Homo sapiens: one gene and its partners. The protein of the gene in region 5 purifies or fractionates together with the protein of the main gene of each other region. This does not show direct contact. Each region holds a gene or a part of one and is shown on either strand. Other genes may lie near its edges.

Region 1 (3,500 bases), on a different chromosome or scaffold from region 5:
TATACACTCCTCTCAGAATCATTTCTAGAATGTGTATAATCCCGGCGTTAAGTGATGGTGGGAATGATTTGCCTTTAAAAGCCTACAAATTAAAAGGGGAAAGATGCTAAGCTAGATGCTGGTTTTCTGTAAAGATGAATTTGTGAAAAACTGCTTTATGGTCTAGAAATACGTAAGCCTGGCATTAGCTGATGGCACATTCTAACATTTTATAGCATTAAAAAACATCGACTCATTCCATTGGATGAAAGCCATGGTGACATTTTTACAAAAGCTGTACCCAGGAATCCACTCAACGTCCTCTCTTCAATTGTCGTTTTTCATCAACAAAGCCTATATATATATATATAAATGAGTTGCTGTGCTCTCACCATGGAGCAGTGTTGATTTGATGTAATGAAGTATTAAACGTTCTCCTTGCTCTCTTTGCCTTCAACTAAGTTTCTGTTAGTTTTTGGCATGCCAGATTCTCTGCTTCCATCTTGATTTCCTATCTCACTGCATGACCATCTTAGAGCTGTTACTAATTCAAAGTCTGGGGTTTTTTTCTCCCAAAGGTCAGTCTAAGGAGGCAGCCACCTATATGACATGACGTCAGAGGGATTAGGAAGGACCCACACTCACCTTCCCTAAGGCTTACTGACTTGTACATAAGGTTTATAATTTAGGTATACCCACCCTAAGTAACATCTGATTGAAGGCATGAACTTGCTTGAGATCCACTCTCAGAAACAGGTTTAGAGGGGAAAAGAAAAAGAATACTGGGAGCTTCAAGGAGGAAGAAAAGGGCCACAGAACAAGGGGAAGCTGGGCCTATAGCAGTCCAGCATGGTAAGGGGCCAACAGTTGGCTTCTAAAAGGTAATGGGTTAACACAGTCATCCTAATACCACCTCCTGAGATGCTGAATTTTCTCTCAGCTAAGTACACATTTCTATTTTCAGGGACAGCTTACATAAATCAGAATTATATTTTTAGGAATCTTTAATCATGAATTCCTCTCTAAATTTCAAAATATTTTATGACTTCTAAGGAAACTTTTTTTACAATAAATAATAAAGAAAGATTTGGGATTTGCAGAATCTTCTGGCCCAATTAAAAACAAAAGAAGCTGTAAATATCCAGAACTTAATAGATGTATAAATTATAAACAAAACATGTCCCTGCCCCAAGGTATTGAAATTACATTACTATAGATACATCCCATTTATGAGGTAGTCCGATTCCTCAGATGTAATGGGACGAGCTTTTTTCAGTTTCTGTTTCACCAGTCGTAGTCGGCATGCAACCATGAGAAGCAGCAGAGCAGTGATAGCCAAACCCAGCGCCAGGGGTAGCACTGCACCTTTGAGAAGGTTAGACATGAAGAGGGCAAGCCAGTGATTAGTCACAGTGACAGCTACTGGTCACTATATGATACGCGCTTTGCATGCACTATTTTATTTAATCCAAACAAATTGTTATTAGTATTATCACTATTTTGCAGATTAACTAAGGTGTACCAAGGTTAAGTAATTTGCTTATTTGCCTAGGAGGCTGTAAGTTGTAGGTTCAGGTCCCAAACCTAGACTTTTTTTTTTTTTTTTTTTTGAGATGGAGTCTTGCTCTGTTGCCCAGGCTGGAGTGTAATGGCTCAATCTCGGCTCACTGCAACCTCTACCTCCTGGGTTCAAGCGATTCCCCTGCCTCAGCCTCCCGAGTAGCTGGGATTACAGGTGCCTGCCACTGTGCCCAGCTAAATTTTGTATTTTTAGTAGAGATGGGGTTTCAACATCTTGGCCAGGCTGGTCTCAAACTTCTGACCTCGTGATCCACCTGCCTCGGCCTCCCAAAGTGCTGGGATTACAGGCGTGAGCCACCGTGCCCGGCCAACACAGACCTCTTTAAAACCAAATTCTCTACCAGCTTCCTACAAAATTTGTATGGCATCAATGGGTACACATACTACCATCTGATCACTCATATCCAACTGAAATAGGCATTCTGATCACGAAATTTTTTTGTTGTAGTCATTGACTATATTTATGAATTCATACATGATCATTCTTCAACTAAGTATGAACTAACTCCTGATTTCTTGTTCTAGTTAGGGCTTAAGAAATTTATTTCCTTCTAAATCCAGGGAACTGACTCAGTCAGTAGAACCTTTGTTGAAAACTAACTTCCAAATATGCTGGTGTGATTTTGGACATTAAAGGAAAACATTTCTTTAGTTTTTCCTGTGAGGTGGATTCTAGACACCAGAGTAGAAGTAGCGAGGCTTGCAGGAGTCTGGAAGGACAGGGTGTGCCAATATCAGTCTTTTTTATCAAGCTTAGCAGGCTCTATTTTTAGTCTGATCTACTCTGTGGCCAGGCCAGGTCTGGAGATTATATGGTGGAACTGTTTTTAGCTGTAGGGATCTTGCCAACTGGTAGAACTAGAGGAGAAACATCTCCTTTGTGTAGGCTCATTCTATACCATTTGCTCTCATTTATTCATTCATTCTGCATTCATTAAAAGCCTTCTTCCATGTGCCAGACACTGAGCTAAGTGCTGATAATCCTTTTATTTGTAAATAAATACCACCCCCCTCAAGATAAGCTAAGGCCAAGAATACCAGCTTTATAGCTTAAATCACTGAATTCTCACAACCACCACATAAGTTGGTGCTATTATTATCCCCATTTTACAAATGAGGGAGCTAAGGCATCAACAATGAAGTGAGGGCCAGGCACGGTGGCTCAGGCCTGTGATACCAGCACTTTGGAAGGCAGAGGTGGGCAAATTGCTTGATCCCAGGAGTTCGAGACCAGCCTGGGCAACATGGCGAGACCTTGTCTCTACAAAAAATTATTAGCCAGTTGTGGCATGCACCTGCAGTCCCAGCTACTCGGGAGGCTGAAGTAGGAGAATCACCTGAGCCCAGAAAGTTGAGGCTGTTATGAGCCATGATCAGGCTACTGCACTCCAGCCTGGGTGACAGTGTAAGGGCCTATCTCAAAAAAAAAAAAGAGAAGTGAGGCTGGGCACAGTGGCTCATGCCTATAATCCCAATACTTAGGGAGGCTAAAGCAGAAGGATCACTTGAGTCTGGGAGGTAGAGGCTTCAGTGAGCTCTTAAACTGTACTCCAGCTTGGGTGGCAAAGTAAGATCCTGTCTTAAAAAAAAAAAAAAAAAAGACTGAAGTGACTTGTCTAAGATTGTTAAGTGGTAGAGCTAGCAAATAACCCCAGACAGGACAGCCCCAGAGCCTGTGGTTCTATCCACTATGGTACTCTACTTCTACAAAATGTAAATGAGACAGTTTTTGAACGAGTAAGTCTGGGTAGACAGACATTTAAATGGGAAAAAATGCAACAAAGTGTTATACTTACTATGATAGAATTATAGATGAAGCATAGTTGTATTAATAAAATAGGTGGTCCATCTACCTGGTCTGTAGGATTTTTGCCTGAGTGATTTTGATGTATGATAGAGACTGTTGGGTGGCTGAAGGAGGTAAGTTTATTTTTTGACAT
Region 2 (3,500 bases), on a different chromosome or scaffold from region 5:
ACAGTATCTCTGAAATGTTCCTACTATACATCTTTCCATCTAATCTAAATGTTTTAATATTTACATAAATGTCCATCCAGAGAATACGAACTGACCTACACTGTCCTAGATGCCCTGCCATTCATAAACCAAAGGTACCATTTTTATTTTGGCTATGCACTCCTAAACACTTACCTAAGTGTGGCATTCTGTATAAGTCAATTTCAACTTGGCATCTGTTATCTCTGTAAGGGAGTGCTGAGCATGACAATATATAGTCTAAAACTGACTTGGTGAATATACAACATGGAACTAGAAGAAATCCTAAACTGAAAATCACCTGCTTAGATTACTATGCTTTACAAATAACAGGGCCATAAATCGTGAAGGACTAAGCACAGTGGGAAAAAAAAAAGCACTGAAACACAACTGCAAAATAGAGAAGTGCTGAAAACGAAAAGTATGGCTAGCGATTTTCAGGTAAAGAATATGATTAAATATTAAAACTACAGATATAAAATTCATTTCATCTTAAAAATATGGAATATCTAATTTTGTTTTATTCAACAAACATGTATTGGGACAACAAATATTTATTATATGCCTTATAACCAATTAGTAAACAATATGTACTATGTGCAATTGTTGGTTGACTTCCAAACCACTGCATAGATGTAAACATTTTCTCAAATTATGCAGTAATTACAGAGTAAAAAACTTATACACATATTAAAATAGAAATCTAATTTAAAATGTTTATTAATCTCTAATATAAAGCATCACTTCATCCAAACAGAAAATCCTAGGAAAAAAGTAGGTATATTTAAATATTACCATAGTAGTCTTAATTGGGGGAAAAAAAAAAAAAAAGCAAACAAACCTCTACAAATCAGTCCTTCCCCTATTACACAGGCTAATAATTATTTTTCACATGTTGATTTTTAAGACCCTATGAGGTATAGAGGTGCCTTTGGAATCATCAAATATTAAATTACATTTTGTTAAATTTTGAAATCATCTGTATTGTTTTCTGAGTTTATTTTCAGCTAATACTAAAATGTATAATCAATGTCCTTATAGATTATCTAAGGAACTAGAACACACTTAAAATACTAAGAGTACTTTAAACAAGACATTAGAAACCTGGAGGTTTAATTACCAGGTGCTTTTTAAACACAATGCATATGCCACCAGACCCTCCTGACTGGCGGAAGCATGGATTGTCCTGAGAAACCCAACATCTCTGCAACGCTCTTGAGGCAACTTCCACTCTCTCTTCAAGGACTTTTGTTCAGTTGGCTCCCTCTGCTCCCTTCAAAACTTTCAATGGCTGCTATTCTACTGGCCTCTAACCAAAAAAGTTAAAAGTATGATCAAATTTTCATCTTAAAAATATATTTTCAATCACTCTCTGTGAATTCTGAGAGCGAGTACTTGTGAAAGCAAAAATGACTACGGACCTTCTAATCACAAATCCAAGTCCTGGTTTCCATAAAACAGGTAGCATTTGTTAAACACAAAGGAGTAACCTCCCAGGCATTGTGCTTGATAGATTTTATCTCATCTGATCCTCACAGTAGCCCTATAAAGTAGGTGCTTCTCCCCTCATTTGCTAAATGAGGAAATGAAACTAAATTGTGAGCTCAAGGTCACAGAGCTATTCGGGGCTCGAGAGGGGGTGGGAACCGAGACTGTCTAACACCCCCTCATTTCAGTACCTGACCTTCTCACTTTCTGAAATTTTCTCAGTTTTCAGCTGCTTTTAAAAGTTACACCCTCCTAACTCTCCTCTTGCCTCTCTTGTTCTGTACCTTCTCGTTTTTCTTTATTGCTTCCTATTTCTCTACCCAACTCTTAAATTTTAGGATCTCCCCAGGCCTCTGTTTCCCTATTAACTTTTGGTACTTGCCCTGGAAAACCTATCAACTTTCACGGTTTATAATTACCTATACACTGAAAACTCCTAAATGTTTCTGTGTGTCTATCCATTTATCTACCTACCATTTATCTACCTGCCTATCTAGCCCAGGACCTCTGTGCTCAGAACTCACATACAATGATTCACTGGACACACATCTCCAGTTCGATTTTCTATAAGCACTTCAAGTTCTACATGTCTAAAACTGAACTCTATCACTCTTGCTCTCAAATCTGGATCTCCTTTTAAGTTCCCATCCCATCCTCCTATACCACCCACTCCCAATCCTCCAACCAAATTGGTCACCTAATCTTAGAGGTTCTACCACCTGAATATCGTTGTAACCAAACCCCTTTTTTTCATCCCACTGCCAACACTTTGGTACAAGGACCTCAACCTCTCTTACCAAAGCCACCCCAATATCTTCTAAACTACCATCCAAATCTCACATTCCTCAGATCCATCCTTCTAGATTGCTTGCTGTAAGAGCTGTTTTCTCATCACATAGCTCCTCTGTTTAAAACAACCTTAAACTGAAAATAGTCCATACTCCTGAGAATGGCAAACAGCCCTCCATGATCTTGCTCCTGCCTCCAGTGATTCATCTTTTATGTCACCCTCTAAGAAACCCTCAAATCTCCTGTCCCCACACAGAATTGACCACTTCCAAATTTCTGCTCAGGGTACTGTGTGTGTATCTCTATCACGGCACTTACAGAACAGCCAGCACTATACTGTAGATATTGAAAATAGCCTGTTTCCTCCTTGTCTCCCCCTTTTAAACCTAGAGCCCTCCCAGGGCCTTAATTGTATGCACATCCCCAGAGCACAGTGCTTGGCACACAGTATGCTTTTAACAAATATTTGTTGAATAAAAGAATGAATGTTTGTGAAATGCTTCAGATTAAGGAGATATGATTACCACTGTTTTCAAGATCAAATTAAACCATTTTAATCATATGTATTTGATTATGTACCTCCTCCATAAGTAGATTTGCAAAATAATATTTAAATAATTCATGTAGCCTCAAGTATGGTTAGCAGGATTCTCAAATCATACTTCTTATTCTGGACTTCCGGGGTAGAAAAATATTAACTACACTACATTATAGTTAGTAAGTTTCAATGGCAGAAAGTAATATGTAAAATATTCTAGTATACATATTCCTAAACAAAGACGATCTGGGCCTATCATAAGAAAGTAAACTTTTTTTTAAAGGCTGCTTCAGTTTCTCAGAAACACCAAGATATTCCAGAAGACTGAATTGTCTGAAATTAATACACCCTCCTAAAGATCTCATACACAAATTTTTTCTATAAAAGGTACATTAAAACCTTTTATATAGAGGTCACCCTTCTGGAAACCTAAACATTTCAGTTCACAGTCCAAACCACAAATAAAGCACGTAAACTGAAAGTGTCTGTCACAAAGTCTACAGGATTTACACTCGGGCAATAGCCCACATCATTTGATGGAAAAAAAGACAACAGATAATAGAGCAGCAGGGCCCACTCACAGTCTGACAGCAGCAGAAAGTGATAGCCAATAACAGAAAGAGGACCCAGAAAAAAAAAAAAAACATAAAAAGAAGAATGGTACTTC
Region 3 (3,500 bases), on a different chromosome or scaffold from region 5:
TTCCCATTTTACACAAAAGACACTTTTCACCAGAGTCCCTGATCCCATAGAACAGAGCTTGGCAAGTGTTTTCTGGGAAGGGCTAGACAGTAGTTTTGCTGGGCTCTGTGGCCCACGTGGCCTCTGGTTTGGTTGCTTGGTTTCTCCTGTTGTTCTTCCAGAGCCGGAGACCCTTCCTTAGGAATGGGCTTGGCTGTGTTCCAATAAAACTTTATTTACAAACACAGAAGGTGGGCCGGACTGTGGATTCTTGGCCTCTGCCGTGACCCATAACATCCCTCCTGGAGGAGGGGTTCTGGGGGGCTGTGTTGGAAGGGGCACCCTCCGGGCTCGGCACCGGGGCCAGACTAAGGGGTGCTCTCACGGGCAGGCAGTCTGGTGGGCAGAACTGGAAAGAAAGGGCTCCTGACTCTGCCTGGGCTCTGGGGGAGGTCACATGGGAGGTGCTTGGAGTGGGGCTGGGGCAGCTGTGGGAAGGAAGCAGCATTAGCCAAGAGCTATGAGACCCCCAGTCGATTGTGGGGACCGGGGCTCCGTGGGCTTTCACCATGCTGCCACCCCGAGGTCACCAGGGCCTTGACCCAGATGCTCCCAGACCAGGCCGGAGACTTTGCATGATTTCAGTGATGAGGGCCCGGCTGTTGGAGAGCCCGTCTGTGCCTGTGTGCTGGGGTTGGTGTCTGGCACCAGGGACCTTTGGGACCTTTAGCCAAGCCAGAGCTGTCCTTCCCCAGTCCTAGCTTGGCAGAGCTGCGTCTGCACTGTTTTCCCTTGTGGCGTTGTGGTGTCGGCCCGTTTGGTGCGCAGCTCAGCATCCGTTCAGACATGTGGCTGCCATCCTGTTCCTGATGAGGCAAATGGCTGTGGCCTGTTTGTTTCCGTGACAGGTCCCCTGGGGACCAGGGGGTGCGGCTGTCTCTCTGTCTGGGAGGTTTACAGCCTGGCAGGAGCCCTGCAGCCCCAGAAGGCTGAGGGCTGGGTGCTCCTGAGAACGGGCAGGCCTAGGGCATGGGGTGGGTCTCCTTGGTCCCTGGCACGTGGTTTTTCTTCTGGGACCCCTCCTCCCTGTGCAGGCCGGGCTCCCCTGGGGGCCCACACTGAGGGTCTGCAGTGTGGCACAGCAGCTGGGACCTGGGCCCCATCGCTGTGAGACCCTCTGGTGACTGGCATCCTGGCGAGATGGAGATGTCTTTGTCAGCTGCTGGGTGGGGGCCCTGGGCAGGGGAGCAGAAGGAAGGTGGGGATGGCAGGTGCGGGCGGCTGGACTGGGCTCTGCTGGGAGGGGGAGCAGGAGGAGGGTGGGGATGGCAGGTGCGGGCGGCTGGACTGGGCTCTGCTGGGAGGGGGAGCAGGAGGAGGGTGGGGATGGCAGGTGTGGGCGGCTGGACTAGACTCTGCTGGGAGGGGAGCAGGAGGAGGGTGGGGATGGCAGGTGCAGGCGGCTGGACTGGGCTCTGCTGGGAGGGGGAGCAGGAGGAGGGTGGGGATGGCAGGTGCGGGCGGCTGGACTAGACTCTGCTGGGAGGGGAGCAGGAGGAGGGTGGGGATGGCAGGTGCGGGCAGCTGGACTGGGCTCTGCTGGGAGGGGAGCAGGAGGAGGTGGGGACGGCAGGTGCGGGAGGCTGGACTGGGCTTTGCGGGAGCAGGAGGAAGGTGGGGATGGCAGGTGCGGGCGGCTGGACTGGGCTCTGCTGGGAGGACCGTGGTTCTGCCTAGGCCAGAGCCCTGCAGTGTCCGCCGTGGTCCCTGCGGTGGGAGGCGTGGTGAGCAGTGCCAGCTTCCTGCTTGTGGAATCCGTCTTTCCTCATAGCTCCATCCTGCTCTGTTAAGCATTAAATTGAAGAGGTGGGGGTCGTCCCTTCTGGTCCAGGCCCGTCTACTCCGCAGCCCTCCTGGGAGGCGTCCAGGGCTTTGGGGCCTGGTCCTGCCCCCTACTTCATTTTGAGAGCGTGGCAAGGGCCCCAGCCCGTTCTGTCCTGGGCGCGGTGGCCACCACCCCTGCTTCTCTTGGCTGGCTTTGGCCTGTTGTCCCCGTTGTGTGTCAGGGGCTCCTGCCCGTGGATCCGGGCCTTCTCCCTGTGGCCTTCTCTGAGCTGCTGCTGCTGCAGGCTGGAGAGCAGGAACTTGAAGCCCTGGCTGGCTGTTCCTTCTCCCTCCTGCGAAGTGGGAGCTGCTGTGCTGGACTCTGCTGCTTTGGGGCTTCATGGGGAACATGACGCTGTCTGTCCTGCTGGTGGCAGCGTGACCTGTTGCAAACCTCAGCCTGTCCCACTCAGGACCCGGTGCCCGTAGGCCCCTTGGCCCACCTGCTTCCTGCTGTTCTACCAGTGGGAGCTGAGGGGTGCTGATCTGGGGATCCCCCTCGTCTGGGCCCCACCGTGTGCCTGGGCCCCCGTGTGCCTTGGAGCACCAGCCAACAAGCAGTGCCCACGGGGCTGTGGGTCAAAGGCCACCCAGACCTGAGGGGTGCAGAGGCTTGCTTGTCCAGGCCTCCCGCCCAGGCTGGGGGCCAGGTCCGCTGGGGCCCTGCCCTGCTTCCCTGCTCAGGGCTCTGCCCGTGGCTCTGCCCGTGGCTGTCATTCTCCCACCGTGCCCACTGATCCTGGGAGGCCCAGGAGGTGGTGCGATCCCTGTTTTTTGGTGCAGAAACTCGGGAGCCACAAAGGGGTGACCTGACACACTCATGGTCACCAGCCTGGGGCTCCCTGAGGAAGGTGAGCCAGTCTGGGTCTTTGCTGTAAACCACGTATGGTCACGTCCCTGTCTGTCCTGTCGAGAGGGGGAAGCATCCCAGACCACCTGGTGAACATGGGCGCCCTTCCTGGAGGCGTCCTCCCCTCCTCGGGCCTGTTTCTCGTGGGGCGGTGCAGCCCCGCACGTCCCGTGCTGTGGCTCTGACTGCTGGCCTTGTCCTGCAGGTGGCCTGTGAGTACGGCATGGTGCACGTGGTCTCCCAGGCCGGGGGCCCCGAAGGCAAAGACTACTGCATCCTCTACAACCCGCAGTGGGCCCATCTTCCGCACGACCTCAGCAAGGCAGTGAGTACCCGCTGGCCGGGCGCCGCTGCGGAGGAGAATGCGGGGGCCCCGGGGCTCTAGAGACACATCCGGCTGGGGTTGCAGGAAAGATCCAGAGGCGAGAGGCAGGCCCTGACCAGGTCTGGGGGACTCTTAGCTGGCCCCCAGTTCCCCTGGGCCTCCCCAACCCTGGTCATCAATGCAAGCTGTCCATGCGGCCTTGGGGTGCAGATCCAGAGGCACCGGCCGAGCTCCATGTGGTAGATAAGGGTCTCTACTGCTCCATGCCGGGGACCCTATCCAGTGGGCCCAGACAGAGGGGTCCTCAGAGGAGTAACAGCAGAGGGCACAGTGGGGCCCCAGGGACGAGACCTGTTCCTTTCACCGTCTTCCTGACTGGGGCACTAACACCTGCTGCTGGATGAGTCCCTCCCTCAGAGGCCCCACCTCCTTTCCCACTTAGTCCTCATGCCCCGCCTCCTT
Region 4 (4,202 bases), on a different chromosome or scaffold from region 5:
AGGGGGTAGCTGGCTGAGGGGCTTCGGCCAGCCAGCTCTAAGAGAATCAGACCTAATCCTTTCCTGAGGCGGGATAGAGCTGGCAGGTCCCACAGGGCCCCGCCCCTGCCCTCCCCCAGCTAATTAGTAATTAGTGATTAGTGATTAGTGACTATTGATCGCCTGCTGCTTCTCCCAGTAGGCAGCTGCTTTGGCAAGGGGTCGGGGAGACAGAGAGAGAGGGAAAGGAGTCAGAGACTGTATGAGAAAGATCCTCAAGAATCCCTGGCTGAGAGGCCAGAACCCCAGAGGCAGTGGAAGCCAGGAGTCCCAGGCTCTGAGAAATGGGAAGCCTGGAGTGAGGAGGAAGGGAGAGAAACCTGGAGGAGGGTGAGCAAGCAGGACGGGAGAGGCAGAGGTGTCAGCCGTTCATGGTTAGGGTTGCCAAAAAGTTGCCCTGTAAACTGTCCCCTAGCCACCTCTTACCCAGGATCAGCCTCACCTTTTGCCCACTCCCAGTGCTGGCACCAAGACACCCTTGAGCACCCACACACATAAGCCACACTCAGATACATAAACACATCCTGAGGCTCACAATCTCATAGCACACTCAAATGCACTCACAATCACAAGCACACAGAAACACACTCACAAACCCCAGAGACTCATACAGACAACACATGGGCCCCAGCACACAGATGCACCAGAAACCCCGGGGTATACATGTGCATACGCCACACTCACAAGTGCACAGAAGCACACACAGGTATTTGGACACACAAACACTCATATACCCACACCTCCCCGTGCAGTTATACATATTCACACACCCGCAGTGTGTACACATGTAAACACATTCTCACATGCACATAAGCTGGGCTAACCAGCAGATCCACTCTCCCTGTTGACTCCAACACGGAGGCCCCACAGCTGCAGCTCACACACACACACTCAGATAGATCCCATTGCTCATATCCTCACGCTCACTCTCACTCAAGTCTCCACCAGATGTTTCATTCCCCCTCAGGGGGCAAAGGAAATTAAACCAGATCTGTCCACAGGGGAGTTTATTTGCCTGGGAGAGTGGAGATGAGGTGGGAGGAAGTGGAAAGGAGGGGCAAGAGAATGCCATACCTACCACCTCTTGACCCCAGGCCTTCACACATGGGTGGGTGGGTGGTAGGGCACAGACCCCCCCCACTCCTCCAGTTCACTAAGGACAGAGTTGGGCAGCAAGTCCCTAAGAAGCTCCTGCTAGTGGAAGCAGTTTTCATGGAGGGGCTCCTCTGCCTACCGTGCAGCCCCTCAAGGTCACCAGGTGGGGCTGGGAGGGCCAGGGAGCTCTAATGCTAGCTTCACTGGGGCAGCCCCTGCCCTGCTGGGGTTTGCCAAATGTGATTTGGCTGAGCAGGCAGAGGTCCAAGTGTTGGGGGAAGAAATACACCCCTTCTAGACTCTACAGGGGCTGAGGGTACAGAGAATGAGGGTTTGGGGAATGACCTGCCTGCCCCCAAACTAGGTAGGTCACAGTTGGGGGTCAGAAAACAGGGAAGCCATAGGCAGGGGAGGCTGGTAGAAGGAAAATGGGGGACTGGGGCCTGGGCCCCCATTGCGGGCACACACCAGGGGCATAGGCAGATGGCTGCACTGTGAGGCAGGCACTGACACTCACTCATGCAAAGCCAACACCACACACCACACCAGTATACACATGTACCCTCGGCCCCAGTACTGGACCAAGCCTGGCTTCCCTGGACACATGCACACAGGTGCACACGGTGACCCACGCCCTCCACCCAGCACATATGAGCACAGCATGTTCGCAGGTTGAAGCCTCCAAGTCAGGAAGGAGGCAGATCAAGTCTGAGCTCCCTTAGCCTCTGGCTCTTCGCCCGAGAGCCTCAGGGAAAGAGGCCTTGGAGTGGGGTTGGAGGCAGGGAGGGCATGGGAGGAGAGACTCCCCTTCCAGACAGCCTCCCCCTTCAGTGGGGCACGAGAGGGGGGTGTGTCTGTGAGGTCGTGCAGGGGAGATGGTGTCTCCGTGGGAAATGTGATGGGAGGCTGGCTGTAGCCAAGTTCAGCCGTGTCTGCCTGAGTCCGTGTGTGCGTGTGTGCTCGGGCCATGGATGCTCCCGACACAGAGCCCACCTGGCATGGTGACAAGTGCAGAGAAGAGAAATGGGAAGGCGGGGGTGGAGGGGTGGAAGGACAGACAGACAGTGAGGCAGGCGAGCGAGACTGGCGCGGAAAGACGGCAAGGCTGACACCCTGCTGGCTTGTCTGTCTGTCTCGCACTCCCGCTCTGTCTGGCGCACTCGCGGGTCGGGCTTCGTCCCCTCCCCCGCCGCGCCTGAAGTCGGCTGCAAGGGGGACCTCCGCCCGGCACCCTCTCCAAGCCTCAGCCAACTTGCGCTAGGAGAGTGCCCGTCCTGAATCGGGCAGTCTGTCTGTCCGCTTCCCCCGCGCCGCGCAAAGTTGGGACGCTCGGAGCTGGGGGCGGGGCGGGCGCACGGAGCCCCTCGCACACTGGGACCTTCGCGTCCCGGAACCCCGCGCCCGCGCTAGCGCCCCAGCCCTGCCACTCTTACCTTCCTAAGGAGCCACGGGCCAAAGAGCAAGAGGAACCATTCCGGGAGCAGCCGCATCTTCTCTGGCGGCTGAGCGGGGCAGGCTGGGCGGGTCTCGGGCAGGCGGGAGCCAGGCCTAGGGACGCGGGGCTCCGGGCGGGCGGCGGGGCGGCTGCGGGAGCGGCGGGAGCGGCGGGAGCGGCGGGAGCGGCGGCGCGGCCCGCGGACTGGGCGCGAGGCGCGGAGCCGGCGCTGGGGGCGGGGCGCGGGCGGGGGAGAAAGTTGGGTCTGACTCCGCGGGCGGGGGGCGGGGCTCCGCGGCGCTCCAATCCCGGCCGCGCCCCGCGCGCCCCCTCCCGCCCAGCTGGGGGCACCGAAGGTGACTTTCACACCGGCACGCCCCGGACACGCCCCTGGCCCAGGTGCGAAGCGGAGGGGGTCGAGGGGCTCAGGCACTGGTCCCCCGAGAGGCCGCGTCTGTGCGCCCAGGAGGAACGGGGCAGGGCGTGGGGCTCTGGGCTCCGGGCCCGTGCACCTGGAGTGGGGGCGCCGCGGAGCCCAGCCGGACGACGCTCTCCAAGCCCCGGGCCTCTGCCCTGTTCAGGGCCAAGGTGTGTCGGGGCAGGCGCAGGGCAGGGGCCGAGGTGGGGACGGGCGGGGCCTCGGGCGGCTGCCGCCGCGCGATGCTGACGGGGATGGATGGGCGCCCCGCGGCTCATTCGGCCCGGAGATGAGAATCATTGATCACGGACGGAAACCCCATCACGTCTGTCAATAGGGCTGACAAACGGCGCCCTCCGCCCCGTCCCCGCCTCACCGCACCTCTGCGGTCTCAGGACCCCTCGGCTAGACCGGCTGTTCACCTTTGCCCCTGGCCCCCACCACTGACCCCCACGAGGCCCAGTGCGCCTCTGCATGGGGGCTGGGCAGGAAATCCCTCTCAGCGCCGCCTGCCTGGCCTCTTGGTGCAGTCTCTGTTCCTCCCCTCCCGCCGTCCCATCTTTCACCACCAGCTCTTCTAGATCCTTGTCCCCATTCCCTATCTCTGTCCTTGTCTCTGTCCCCAGCCCCAGCTCTCTGCCCCCATCCTCTTCTCTGTTTCTTCCTCGGTTCCCTCCTCCCCACTGCCTCTCTCTCTCCTGCCCGGGTGGTTTCAGCTGTCAGCTGTTGCTATGCACTGAGGCTGTGGCTGAGGTTGTGGTATGACCAACACCTAGACAGAGATAGGGACAAGCAAAGAGACTGAGAGACAGACACATCCCTTGAGAGCCCACCCCAGGGATGCACGCAGATGCCTTCACGGGGACAGGGCACACAGAGCGAAATACAGAGACAGGCGCACACCTAGCGGCACCCCAACACACAGAGGAGCACAGCAACAGAGGTGAGCACACCTGCACCCAGACGAGCACACCCAGACAGTTGCTCAGTGCGCTCACCCTCTCTTTGTCTTGGCAGAGAGCAAACACCCACAGAGGTGGACACACACACTGAGACATACACAGGTGTATGCTGTCACTGGCAGCCCAGAAGACAAGTGGGGGCACATACAAAGAAATGGACAGATAGATATGGGACGTGACAGCCACACACACGAGTCAGGAAAAGGACCGGTGCTGAGAGGACGAGGCAGATTCAGAGACACCCAGGGAGACA
Region 5 (3,500 bases):
TCTATAATTTCTATTAGTGACAGTCACAAATACTACTAATAGTATTGTGGTTTGTTGCTTATACTCATCATCAAAGGAAATACTCAATTTGAGTTAAAGGTTTAAATAAAGATGTATTTTTCCCCCATCCAAGTTCATGGATCCCTGAATTCTACCCATGGATTCCTTGGTCACTGGACTCCATAGGGGTCACTTGGGGAATGATTGTGACACCAATGAAGGAAGCCAGCGGATACTGTTTGCTGTATTATACCTACCATAGGCTCGTGATGAGGAAATAATAAAATAAATAACTGTAATGAAAAAGAAAAGAAAGGAAAACAAAAGGAACCTAAAACAGAGAAGGCAAATAGCTTTCCTTTTGAGTGTCAATTTTAACAGACTCCCTGTGGTTGCGAAACAATGTGTCTGAGGCTGGCTCTGGGTTAGAGGGAGAGTGCTGTTATTGATTAGCAATTCCTGCATGACAGCAGAGTGGCAACAGCCATGCATCTCTGACCTGGCACAGTCATAAGCATGTTATAGACATAAAGTGTTAGGGAACAAATAGGCTCTAGCAAAAGTAAAGAGTGTTCCTCCTCTCATATCATCACTTATATGTGTTTATACCATTTATGTTGTATTTTTTACATGAATACTTTTAGATTTATTAATCTAATCCAAAAAGGTTTGTATAGCTTTCTCTATATTAAGAGAAATATATGTATTTCTTAAATACACAAAGTTCTTAAATCTGATGCCAGCGAGGATTGCTTCCAGCCACAAGTAACATATATCAGATTAATAGTAGTTCATTCAAAGAGGGATTTATTTTCCTCACATGAAAAACAGCTCTGTGGGTGACCCAATATAGAGCTTGTTCATTGAGCCAGTGATTATATCAAGGAACTGGGTTCTTCATATATTTTCATTCTTTGATCTCCCCCTATTGACTTTATAGCTGTATCTTTCTCAAGGATGCAGAATGGCTGCCGCAGTCTCAAACACTGCGTGTGTGTTCAAATCATGAAGAAAGGAGATTGAGTGATGCCAGCTAGCTCTCTTCTCGTGACTCTCCTTTGTATCTAGAACACAGTGTCTTTCCCCAAAACCTGGGTCATATGACTACACCTCAATACAGCGGAGTCTGGGAAAGCAAATATTTGCTTTGCCCACCACTACAATAGAAACGACAAGGGAGAAAGAAAGGGGGTTGGGCATGGCGTTAATTTTGTCAGCCGCTAGGGTCTGCCACCCAGAAAACAGAAGTCCACTAACAAGCAGGGAACTGATTGTTCTGCCAGGGAAAAAGTCTGGCAGTTTCCTACTGAAGAAATTTGGAAGTCTTGATGGTCCAGGAAGGATAAAGGCAAAACCTTCATTTTCTTTTATCAAAAAGGAAAGCCAAGAAAAAAATTAGTTAAGTAGAAGTTATGCACAACCCTCATGTAACTCTTCCATGTTAATAGCAGGTAGGCTGCATATGAAAACATGATATTATACAAGAAAACTAGTTGATGAAGATTGCCCTATTTAGCACCAATTACTTACGCAAACCTAAGTTGACTCTGAAACAGGAACCCCATATTAAACTTTTCAAACACATCAGAATATGTTACTTTGAACAGATTTTATTTAATCCAAAGAGATTATCTTTGAAAAAGGTAGATGGTAAACATCGTTATCCCTATTTTTGTATAGTCAAATAGGCATAGTAGTAAGTTGTGTAAAATTGACATCCAAACCAATGCATGATACTAAAACTTGGTGTACAAACAGCAGTTACATCCTATTGCTTTGTATCTACATCTGTTTCTGGAGTCATATAACATTTGTAGAATCTTGGAGGTGTTTTAGGCTCATCCTTATTTTATCCATAAAGAAGACTGACACCTATAGAGATTAACTGACCTGCCAAGGGTCATGGCAGTTTCACTGCTGAGACAAGAACACAGATCCCTTTACTTCTTTCTGAGAAAAGTACAAAGTAGTTTAAAGCAAAAGCTTCCCTGCTTCCAGCACTTCTGGCTAAGTTGCGCCGTGGGAAAATTGTTTTGTCTGATTCAGTTTTCTCATCTTTTAAACTGGAATAATGCTACCTAATTTACAGGGTTGTTTGAAGAATTAAATGAATGCATGGAGGTAAATCACTTAGAACAGCGGTAAATTATACTTTTTTATTATTTATTTCCTTTGACCACCCACAATTATCATCAGTGTCATCCTCATCATCACAATTAAGATTACTACCACATTAGGCTACATAAACTTTTTTTTTCTCTCTCTGTTTTATAATTTCAATTTTATTTTAGATTCAAGGGGTACATGTGCAGGTTTTACATGGGTATATTGTCTGATGCTGAGGTTTGGGGAACAACTGATGCCATCACCCAGGTAGTGAGTATAGTACCCTATAGTTTTTCAGCCCTTGTCTACTCCCTTCCCTTCCCCTTCTAGTAGTCCCCAGTGTCTACCATCGTCATCTTTATGTCCATGTGCACCATTGTTTAGCTCCCAGTTAAAGTGAGAACATGCAGTATTTGGTTTTCTAGCTTATTTTTCCTCTCTTAAATCACTTCTGTGACACGTAGGCCATGAGATTTATTGTATTTTTTAATGCCTTATTTAAAAATTTGTATTATTTAATACATTTAATGCATTATTTTTTATTATATTTAAATATTGATTTATTTGTACTTTTTGCCTTATTGCTATATTGTTTCAAAAAATTTAACATTATTTGAGTTACATGATTTCAAATACATACTGATTAACATTTTAATTAGAAACTTTATGTCTGATATGAATTGCCAAAATGTGTAGTTGGTACAACCTATGAGTCATTCTGGGTTATCTAGAAGAAACTGGTAGCCTGCCCCATACTCCAGAAGCCTTCCCCAGTGTCTAGACCTCAGAAGCTGTCAGGAATATGCACAGGAGAAGGACACATGGCAAATAGCTATTTCGTCTCTTAAATGTATGGTATGTGGGAACCACTGAAAAATGTAAAGTTTCTACAAGGTGCTATTTTTATTATTTATGGCTCTAGAGAACAGAGAAGGTGAAAAATGTGAGAGAGAAGGGAAAGCCAATAGTATGTGGCCTTCAAAACAAAAGATCCCACAGATATTGTCCCAAACTGCTTCCTGGCCCTCTAGAGTGGAGAGGGAGGGGGAAGACATCCTATTAGAGTTCAACATTCTCTTATTATTTCCTTCTTTTAATTTTCTGGGTATACAACAGCAAATAGTTTTGCTGAAGTAGTTACAGAACTAGTTGGTGTTCTCCAACCTTCCTATTCCAATACATACTGTCATGGATGGGTACACTAAAATCTCAGAATTCACTGCTATATCACTCATCCATGTAACCAAAAACCACATGTACCCCCAAAAGCTATTGAAATAAGATAAATACATTCTTATTTAAAAAAATACTGTCATAGGGATGCTACCTTCTTTTCTTTTTTGTTAGTAACTATTTGTGGGATGTCTTTGGTGTGTCAGGCTCTGAGCAATGCC
Region 6 (3,500 bases), on a different chromosome or scaffold from region 5:
GGGGAGCCCAGGCTGTGGGGCAGGCACAGAAGTGCCAGGGAAGGCAGGAGATAAAGCTGCCAGGAGACCTGGGTTTCAACAGTAGAGCCCTATGGGCTCAGGTGACTACTTGCAAAGCCTTCTGCAGGGTGACGCTTTATGGCAGCCAGGTCCCTGCCAGATACCCAGGGACCCTGAGATCCCACATCAGCAAGCAGAAGGAGGTGACAGAATTAGGCTGAGTTTTCCTTTGGTCTCATTACCACCATGTCACCCTCAACTCCTCCCTTTCCTAATAATAATGATATTATCATAGCTAAGATCTACTGGCCAATCACTAGGTGCCAGATTCTTCACTTTGCAATGATAATCTTTATTTTATAGATGGTAAAAATCAAAGCTCAGAAAGGTTAGAAAGCCAAGTTTACAGAGGAAGCAATGATAAGACTAACCCAGGTAGGCTGGCTACAGGGTCTGCGATCTCCTTCTTTTTATCTGGAAATAATTTTAAATTTACAAAAAAAGTTGCATGTATAGGACAAAGAACTCTCCTACACTCTTACCCAGATTCACCAACTGCTAATTTGACATCTTTGTTTAATCATTCTCTCTATATGCAGTCAGCCCTCTATATCTGCAGGTTCTGCATATGTGACTTCAACCAACTGTGGATCAAAAATATTCAAAAAAAACTTAAAAATACAAAAAAAGTATCAATTTAAAAACAATATAGTATAACAACTATTTACATAGCATTTACATTGTATTAGGTATTATAAAGAATTTAGAGATGACTTAAAGTATACAGGAGGATTGTGTAGGTTATATGCAAATAATGACACCATTTTATAACAGGCACTTGAGCATCCTTGGATTCTGGTATCTGTGGGGGATCCCGGAACAAGTCTCCCTGAGGAGGGCAACTGTATACAAATTCTCTCTCTTTTCTGAATCATTTGTAAATAAGTTGAAGAAATCAGGCCCCTTTAGCACTCAATACTTTAGCATGTATTTTCTAAGAATGAAAACATTCTCTCACACCACAAAAATTAACGAAATGAATATTGATACTATAATGACAATGATATTATTATTAACATATGGTTTCTATTTTCTGGTCCAGAATCCAGTCCAGGATGAAGCATGGTATCCAGTTATCACCGCTCTCTAGTCCCTTCCGATCTGGGGTAGCTTCTCAGTCTATCTTCAACTTATGATCTTGACAATTTTTAAGAGTCAGGGCCAGCTATTTTCTAGTATATTCCTCAATGTCTGATGTTTTCTCATGATTAGGTTCAGGTTATGCATTTTCGTGAGGAATTAGAGTCTGTACAATTAGTCATTAATACAACCCCACCCTATGTGAGTCTTTCTGGGACACTCACCTTGGGGCAGCCAGGATGAGGAAGGACTGAGAACCCCTATACTGTGTAGGATGCTAGAAGGAGTAGGGCCACTTTACTGGAGAAAAGAAGCCCCTGCACCCATGGTGTCTTCAAATACCTGAGTTGCTGCACAAGAGTGAGGCTGCTCCTGAGGAGTGGATGCAACCCCTTCTACCTGACTGGACACACATGCATGATGGTGACACGTGCAACCCAAGCCCTAGGCACAAGTGTGGACTATGGGCACATATGATTCCCATTCTGTCCTGCCCAGCACAGCTGTGCCAGCTGCTCAGGGACCTAGAGTAAGAACTGCAAAAAGAAGTCATGGGGAGGTGGAGCTCAGCATGGTCAGTTGGAGGAAGACTTTCCTAAAGACTAGAGCTGTTTGAGCATGGAGGAATCAGCTACTTTGTAGGGCAGTGAGCCCCTGCCTGGAAGTGGTCTAGCAAAAAACAAAAACAACCCATGTGGACTACTCCACAGCGGGGATAGGGCTGGCCATGGTGTCTTCCAAAGCAGGACTCAGTGGATCCGTGGACCTGTTGTAGCAGTATCACCTGGGATCTGAGAAATGCAGAATCCTGGGCCCCACTTCAGACCTGCAGAACCAGAATCTCTCTGAGATGAGGACCCAGGAACTTGTGTCTTAATAAAGCTTCCAGGTGATTCTTGCGTGTGCACAATACTGAGGGGAACTGCTCTGAGGTTCTTCTAACATTTCACAATTTTGCGATACTCAGCAAGGCATTTCTATCTAGCCCAGGTTAAACAACTAATTCAATTGAGAATAACCCTCCCCATAAGTATCAGTAAAGGCTAAATAAATTCTGTTCCTACCTTTTGCTAAGATGATGCATAAGCCTAAGCTCTGGGACAATCTGAGAAGTCCGCCAGACTCTAAGCTCCCTTTTGAGACAAGTTGCCCCAACCCATTCCTTCCCACACAAAGTGCACCATTTGTGGTGTGGGAGTGGCAAGAAACGAGTCCAGGTCTCTTGGCCACAGCTAAATGGACTAAGGATGGAGTCTGGGTCTAAAGCAGCCACCAGTAGAGGACATAGGGAGATGGCCATCCCTGCAGGCCAGCAGAGAGGAGGTAGGTCCCCCGAGAAAGAAGCCCCTGAACAGAGCAAATTTGGACAGCATCTCCAGTTCCTTACAATGGCTACTGTGTGACTCTCTTGGAAGCTCTGGGACCCAGCACAACTGTGGCAACTCCAGATGCCACTCCAGGATGTGCCATGATTCCTGCCACAAACCTCCACTGTCAAAGGACCCCGGGGTGTGTTTCATCACTGGGTGTGGCAATACAGCAGACCAGGTCCCCAGTCCCTTCCTAAGGCTTAGCTCAGGGCTGAGGAGCAACTACACAGCAAAGAAGGGGCCTTCTCTTAGCCTTTTCAGAATGGAGAAAACAGATAAATTTGTAGCATAAGCTTGTACCAATGGCAGTCACCACTGGCAGAGTGAAAGATCTGATTCTCTTAGAGGTGCTGGAGTATGTACCAGTGCAGACATGGGAAGCCAGAGAAAACAAAAGGACTTGTCCAGGTTAACTAAGAAAAAAAGGATGTTGGCCTCTGGGTAGGGGATAAAGATGAATGGTCTCACCATCTTACTTTACTGAGCACCTACTATGCGAGAGGCGCTGTCTTAAGCCTTTTTCCTGACCTATTTCATTTAAGCCTCACCCTCCAATGCAGTACCAATATTATCCCCATTTTCTTTTAACATGAGAAAACCAAGTTTTAGTGGAGTTAAGTACCTTGCTTAAGGTCTTAAAGCTCAAGAAGGGCCACCAGGATTTGAACCTGCCTCTCACTAAGGTCTTGTTCTTAGTACCGTGCTCATCTGTCATCAGACTTGGAGGAACACTCAATGGCAGATAAGCAGAGTAGACTGTAGAGCAGTGAGTTTTTATTAGTCAAGGGCAGAGCAGGTGTGGTGGCCCTGGAAATGTAGAACCACAGGCCCTGGACTGTAACTTAGCAACCCAAGGCTTCTTGCTGTAATTCCTCCCCACCCAGCCAGGCAGAGGGTACCCAGCTGTGACAGGTGGCTTAGGGAGCTGTGGCCATTCTCTCACCCTAAGGAGAGTCTAAGTAACATACTAGTGTGATAATTTATCCCATG
Region 7 (3,500 bases), on a different chromosome or scaffold from region 5:
GTAAAAGATCTCAATACTATAGGAATTATTTACTTACGCTCCACAAAGGAAGTAAAGAGCATTCGAAACCTGCTAAGCCGACTACCTTCATCTGCCCACATTCGAATCACTCCAATTCCTGTTTTAAGCATTACATCATTGGCCACAGTGCTGCAAAACTTGGCCTTCAGGTTTTCAATAGAACTGCTTCCATCATAGACTGCAACGAAGTTTCTCTTGCATTCATTTGAGTGCTCCATTTGATAATCTAGGAACCTCAAATAAATCTGTAATATTAACACAAAAACACTGCTTTTAAAAAGATATATTAATTTGAATTTTTCTATTTCTATTTTCCACAGACAACATGGGACACCGAATGACAGCTGACAGAAAACCATAATCGATAAATGGCTGATGCCTAAATAGTGAGAGGAACTAAGATTAATGATCTGTTTCTTTGGTTGTCTTTATAATGGAACCAAGCATTAAGGAACTTACTTTGTGTTTTGTCTATAAAGAGTAGAAACTTTTTGCTCACAAGGCATAACTATCTCACATTTTTCTCATTATAAAAGCAATCTCATGGTACTGGACAGGGGAGAAAATAAAATAATCACTCATATTTCTATTATTCCAACAATGCATGTGATTAATTGGTGAGTTTCTTTTCACTCTTTCTGCACATTAAAAAAACCTGTGTTTAATTGTAAGATATACACATCCTACTTTAGCTGTAACATATAAAAATGTTTTTATCTATACTCTTAGCCATACCTATTCCCGGATGTCCTATTATTTATTTACACAATATCCTACTGTTCTACATGGTTGCTTTATTTCACCTCTTAACAATACCTGCATTTTCAGACAGGCAGACGTCAACTGTACTATCAAAGGAAGCTCTATTAGCATCCCCCATTCAAATTTTATAGCTAAATGGTTCTAAGTTATTTCCTAAACACTCTTGACCCATTCTTGTTTGGCGATTTCTCTTACATTGTGAATTTAGATTTTAAGCATTAATCTCCAGAAGAGCCTAATGAAGTAGGTATCATGTTTTTTTGTGGGCAGAGATGAATCTGTTATTCGGTGGCAAGGATTAAACCCAGGTTGGTCTGACTCTAAATGTGCGTCCTTCTCATTCCATGAAGCGCTTTACATACTCACACAGTGTTCCCTGTTTGGGCTCTAGTTTCTCATATGTGACTCTATCATTAAAATAAAATTTGAGTGAGTGAATAAAGATTACCTTTGAATTGCCATTCAAGACATCTAATGAGTATTCACTTCCTAGCTATTATTTCTGAGGGAGCAGTATGCCACATCTACCCTTTAATTCGAAGAGATTAATAAAACAAAAATGTCATGTCATATATTCCCCCCCCACCCCACCAAATACCTTGATGGCATAAAACTAAGAGAGAACAACTTACAAAATATAGCTTAAAGAATTACATTTTGACTAAATAATTTTGGTTTATTTGAAATGACTGGTTCACCACTTCCGTGAGAATGGTGGAAAATTGGTAATGAAATAGGATTTCCAGTTCAAAACTTTACAAAGTCTTCATGCGTGTATTTTAACAAAGAAGCAATATGTTTTCTTAAATATATCAACAGTTCTCATTAGTTTTCCATCACTTATATAACCCAAACCCTCCGCTCACACTCTGGTAGCGAGCTCTAATGCTGTAATGACTTCCCTCTTCCACTAGACTGTGATGTCTTCCAATGGAAGGTCACTGGCTCAGTTTCATCCAGTATAATTCTTGCTCATGGCAGACAATGAGAAAGTGACTAGGCTTGTAAAACTATGACTTGGTAGAAGTATCAGTAGAATAATCAAGCTGTCTGAAGTATTTATATTTACTCTCTGCTTTTCTTTTAATCCAAATAAATATGGTATTATATAAGGCTATAGTAAATGCTCTTCAAAGACATATTTTTAAAAAAACATCGAGTTAAAGATAAATAATAACAAGATCACAGCACTTTTCTACTGTAAATACAGCTAAATATTGAATTGTTTAGTTCAACAAATTTTTGGGAAATATTCATAACGTGAATCTGACAAATTGCAATGTTGGGAGAAGGGCATAAACTACTTTTCTTTTACTCCAGATTGCATGAGAAGGGATCTTTTACTTACAACTTTCATCAAGTAAGTGACCTCTTACCCTATCCCTATATCCTACCCAGGGAGGCAGGGCAAGTTACCTGGATGGTGGGAGTTTGGTTTCTTTTTCCCTCCCCTCATAGGAAGTGGGACTGGGTAGGCCGGTCTGCTCTGCAGATGCGAACTTTCCCTGGAGTGGAATGGGCTGTTCTAGACTTAGGTGAGACGTAGAACTGGTGGGCAAGGAGTTGCCAACACTAATTAGATCATCTCTCTGCGTTGCTCTCTCTATCCTAGCCTTCACTGTGGTAAAGAGGCTTTTCCAACTCCCTACACACTGACACTTTTATTTCTCAATTGGTTCAGCACTCCACCAGGGAAAAGGGATGCTATTTATTGGAGCCCCTGAAGACCCCAACAGAAATGAAATCCCCAGAAAGCTACTATCATGAAAAGGCCACTGATAAAAGTGGACTAAAACACTATTTGTATACTCTTAAACATCGATGCCTTCTTTTGTATATTTATTTTTAAAATATATTTTTAATTTTAAAAATAGAGACAGGGTCTTGCCATGTTGTCTAGGCTGGTCTTGAACTGCCAGGCTCAAGTGATCCTTCCGCCTCAGCCTCCCAAAGTGCTGGGACTGCAGGCATGGGCCACCGTGACTGGCTTCTTTTTATATTTATAAATGGATATTTTTCTTAAACATCACCCATGAACTAGTTTCTCACATTTAGTATTCAAGGGTAATGGTGACTTTTAACATTTAATTTAGATTTCTTAAATAAAACCATCTATTTACACTTTTTTGTTTGTTTGTTTTCTTTTTTTAGACAGAATCTCACTCTGTCTCCTAGGTTGGAGTTCAGTCGCGTGATCGCGGCTCTCACTGCAGCCTCCACCCCCAATTCAAGAGATTCTTGTGCCTCAGCCTCCTGAGTAGTTGGGACTACCGGTGTGCACCACCACACCTGGCTAATTTTTTGTATTTTTAGTAGAGATGGGGTTTCACTATGTTGCCCAGGCTGGTCTCGAACTCTTGACCTCAAGTGATCCGCCTGCCTCAGACTCCCAAAGTGCTGGGTTTACAAGCGTGAGCCACTGCGCCTGGCCTATTTACACATTTAAACATTCAAATTTTAAAATTTGATCCAATTCCCATGTCAACTGTAATAATTTTTTTAAGTTTAACTGATTTACTTTTATTAAAAGCAATACAACATTCTTCTATAGTCAATATTCCAGGTAACGCTCCTAAAAATTTGTGAATATGGAATTATCTTTTCAAGGAATATTTCAATGAAGAATGAGATCTAATAAATATTGTTTAATTTCACTTAAAGCACACTTAATATTTTCATACTTACATATCTATAAAAATATGTTGTATTGTTCCATA

What was found.
Region 1: the proteins of PON2 (region 5) and LRP11 purify together in Homo sapiens (affinity purification with mass spectrometry; 3 studies listed by BioGRID and IntAct, with this or other methods). This does not show direct contact.
Region 2: the proteins of PON2 (region 5) and UGT8 purify together in Homo sapiens (affinity purification with mass spectrometry; 3 studies listed by BioGRID and IntAct, with this or other methods). This does not show direct contact.
Region 3: the proteins of PON2 (region 5) and SPPL2B purify together in Homo sapiens (affinity purification with mass spectrometry; 3 studies listed by BioGRID and IntAct, with this or other methods). This does not show direct contact.
Region 4: the proteins of PON2 (region 5) and NXPH4 purify together in Homo sapiens (affinity purification with mass spectrometry; 2 studies listed by BioGRID and IntAct, with this or other methods). This does not show direct contact.
Region 6: the proteins of PON2 (region 5) and POMGNT2 purify together in Homo sapiens (affinity purification with mass spectrometry; 3 studies listed by BioGRID and IntAct, with this or other methods). This does not show direct contact.
Region 7: the proteins of PON2 (region 5) and NETO2 purify together in Homo sapiens (affinity purification with mass spectrometry; 3 studies listed by BioGRID and IntAct, with this or other methods). This does not show direct contact.

Annotation. Positions count from the first base shown.
Region 1 is NC_000006.12:149,819,360-149,822,859, forward strand, and holds part of LRP11 (low-density lipoprotein receptor-related protein 11 isoform 1 precursor), read right to left. Parts: intron 1,345-3,500; coding exon 1,190-1,344; 3' UTR 1-1,189.
Region 2 is NC_000004.12:114,601,807-114,605,306, reverse strand, and holds part of UGT8 (2-hydroxyacylsphingosine 1-beta-galactosyltransferase precursor), read right to left. Parts: intron 1-3,500. UniProt on the Homo sapiens protein: Catalyzes the transfer of galactose to ceramide, a key enzymatic step in the biosynthesis of galactocerebrosides, which are abundant sphingolipids of the myelin membrane of the central nervous system and peripheral nervous system.
Region 3 is NC_000019.10:2,331,684-2,335,183, forward strand, and holds part of SPPL2B (signal peptide peptidase-like 2B isoform 2 precursor), read left to right. Parts: intron 1-2,918; coding exon 2,919-3,038; intron 3,039-3,500. UniProt on the Homo sapiens protein: Intramembrane-cleaving aspartic protease (I-CLiP) that cleaves type II membrane signal peptides in the hydrophobic plane of the membrane. Functions in ITM2B and TNF processing.
Region 4 is NC_000012.12:57,215,392-57,219,593, reverse strand, and holds the start of NXPH4 (neurexophilin-4 precursor), read right to left. Parts: upstream 2,801-4,202; 5' UTR 2,625-2,800; coding exon 2,568-2,624; intron 1-2,567. UniProt on the Homo sapiens protein: May be signaling molecules that resemble neuropeptides and that act by binding to alpha-neurexins and possibly other receptors.
Region 5 is NC_000007.14:95,425,029-95,428,528, reverse strand, and holds part of PON2 (serum paraoxonase/arylesterase 2), read left to right. Parts: intron 1-3,500. UniProt on the Homo sapiens protein: Capable of hydrolyzing lactones and a number of aromatic carboxylic acid esters. Has antioxidant activity. Is not associated with high density lipoprotein.
Region 6 is NC_000003.12:43,099,580-43,103,079, forward strand, and holds part of POMGNT2 (protein O-linked-mannose beta-1,4-N-acetylglucosaminyltransferase 2), read right to left. Parts: intron 1-3,500. UniProt on the Homo sapiens protein: O-linked mannose beta-1,4-N-acetylglucosaminyltransferase that transfers UDP-N-acetyl-D-glucosamine to the 4-position of the mannose to generate N-acetyl-D-glucosamine-beta-1,4-O-D-mannosylprotein.
Region 7 is NC_000016.10:47,109,446-47,112,945, forward strand, and holds part of NETO2 (neuropilin and tolloid-like protein 2 isoform 1 precursor), read right to left. Parts: intron 267-3,500; coding exon 38-266; intron 1-37. UniProt on the Homo sapiens protein: Accessory subunit of neuronal kainate-sensitive glutamate receptors, GRIK2 and GRIK3.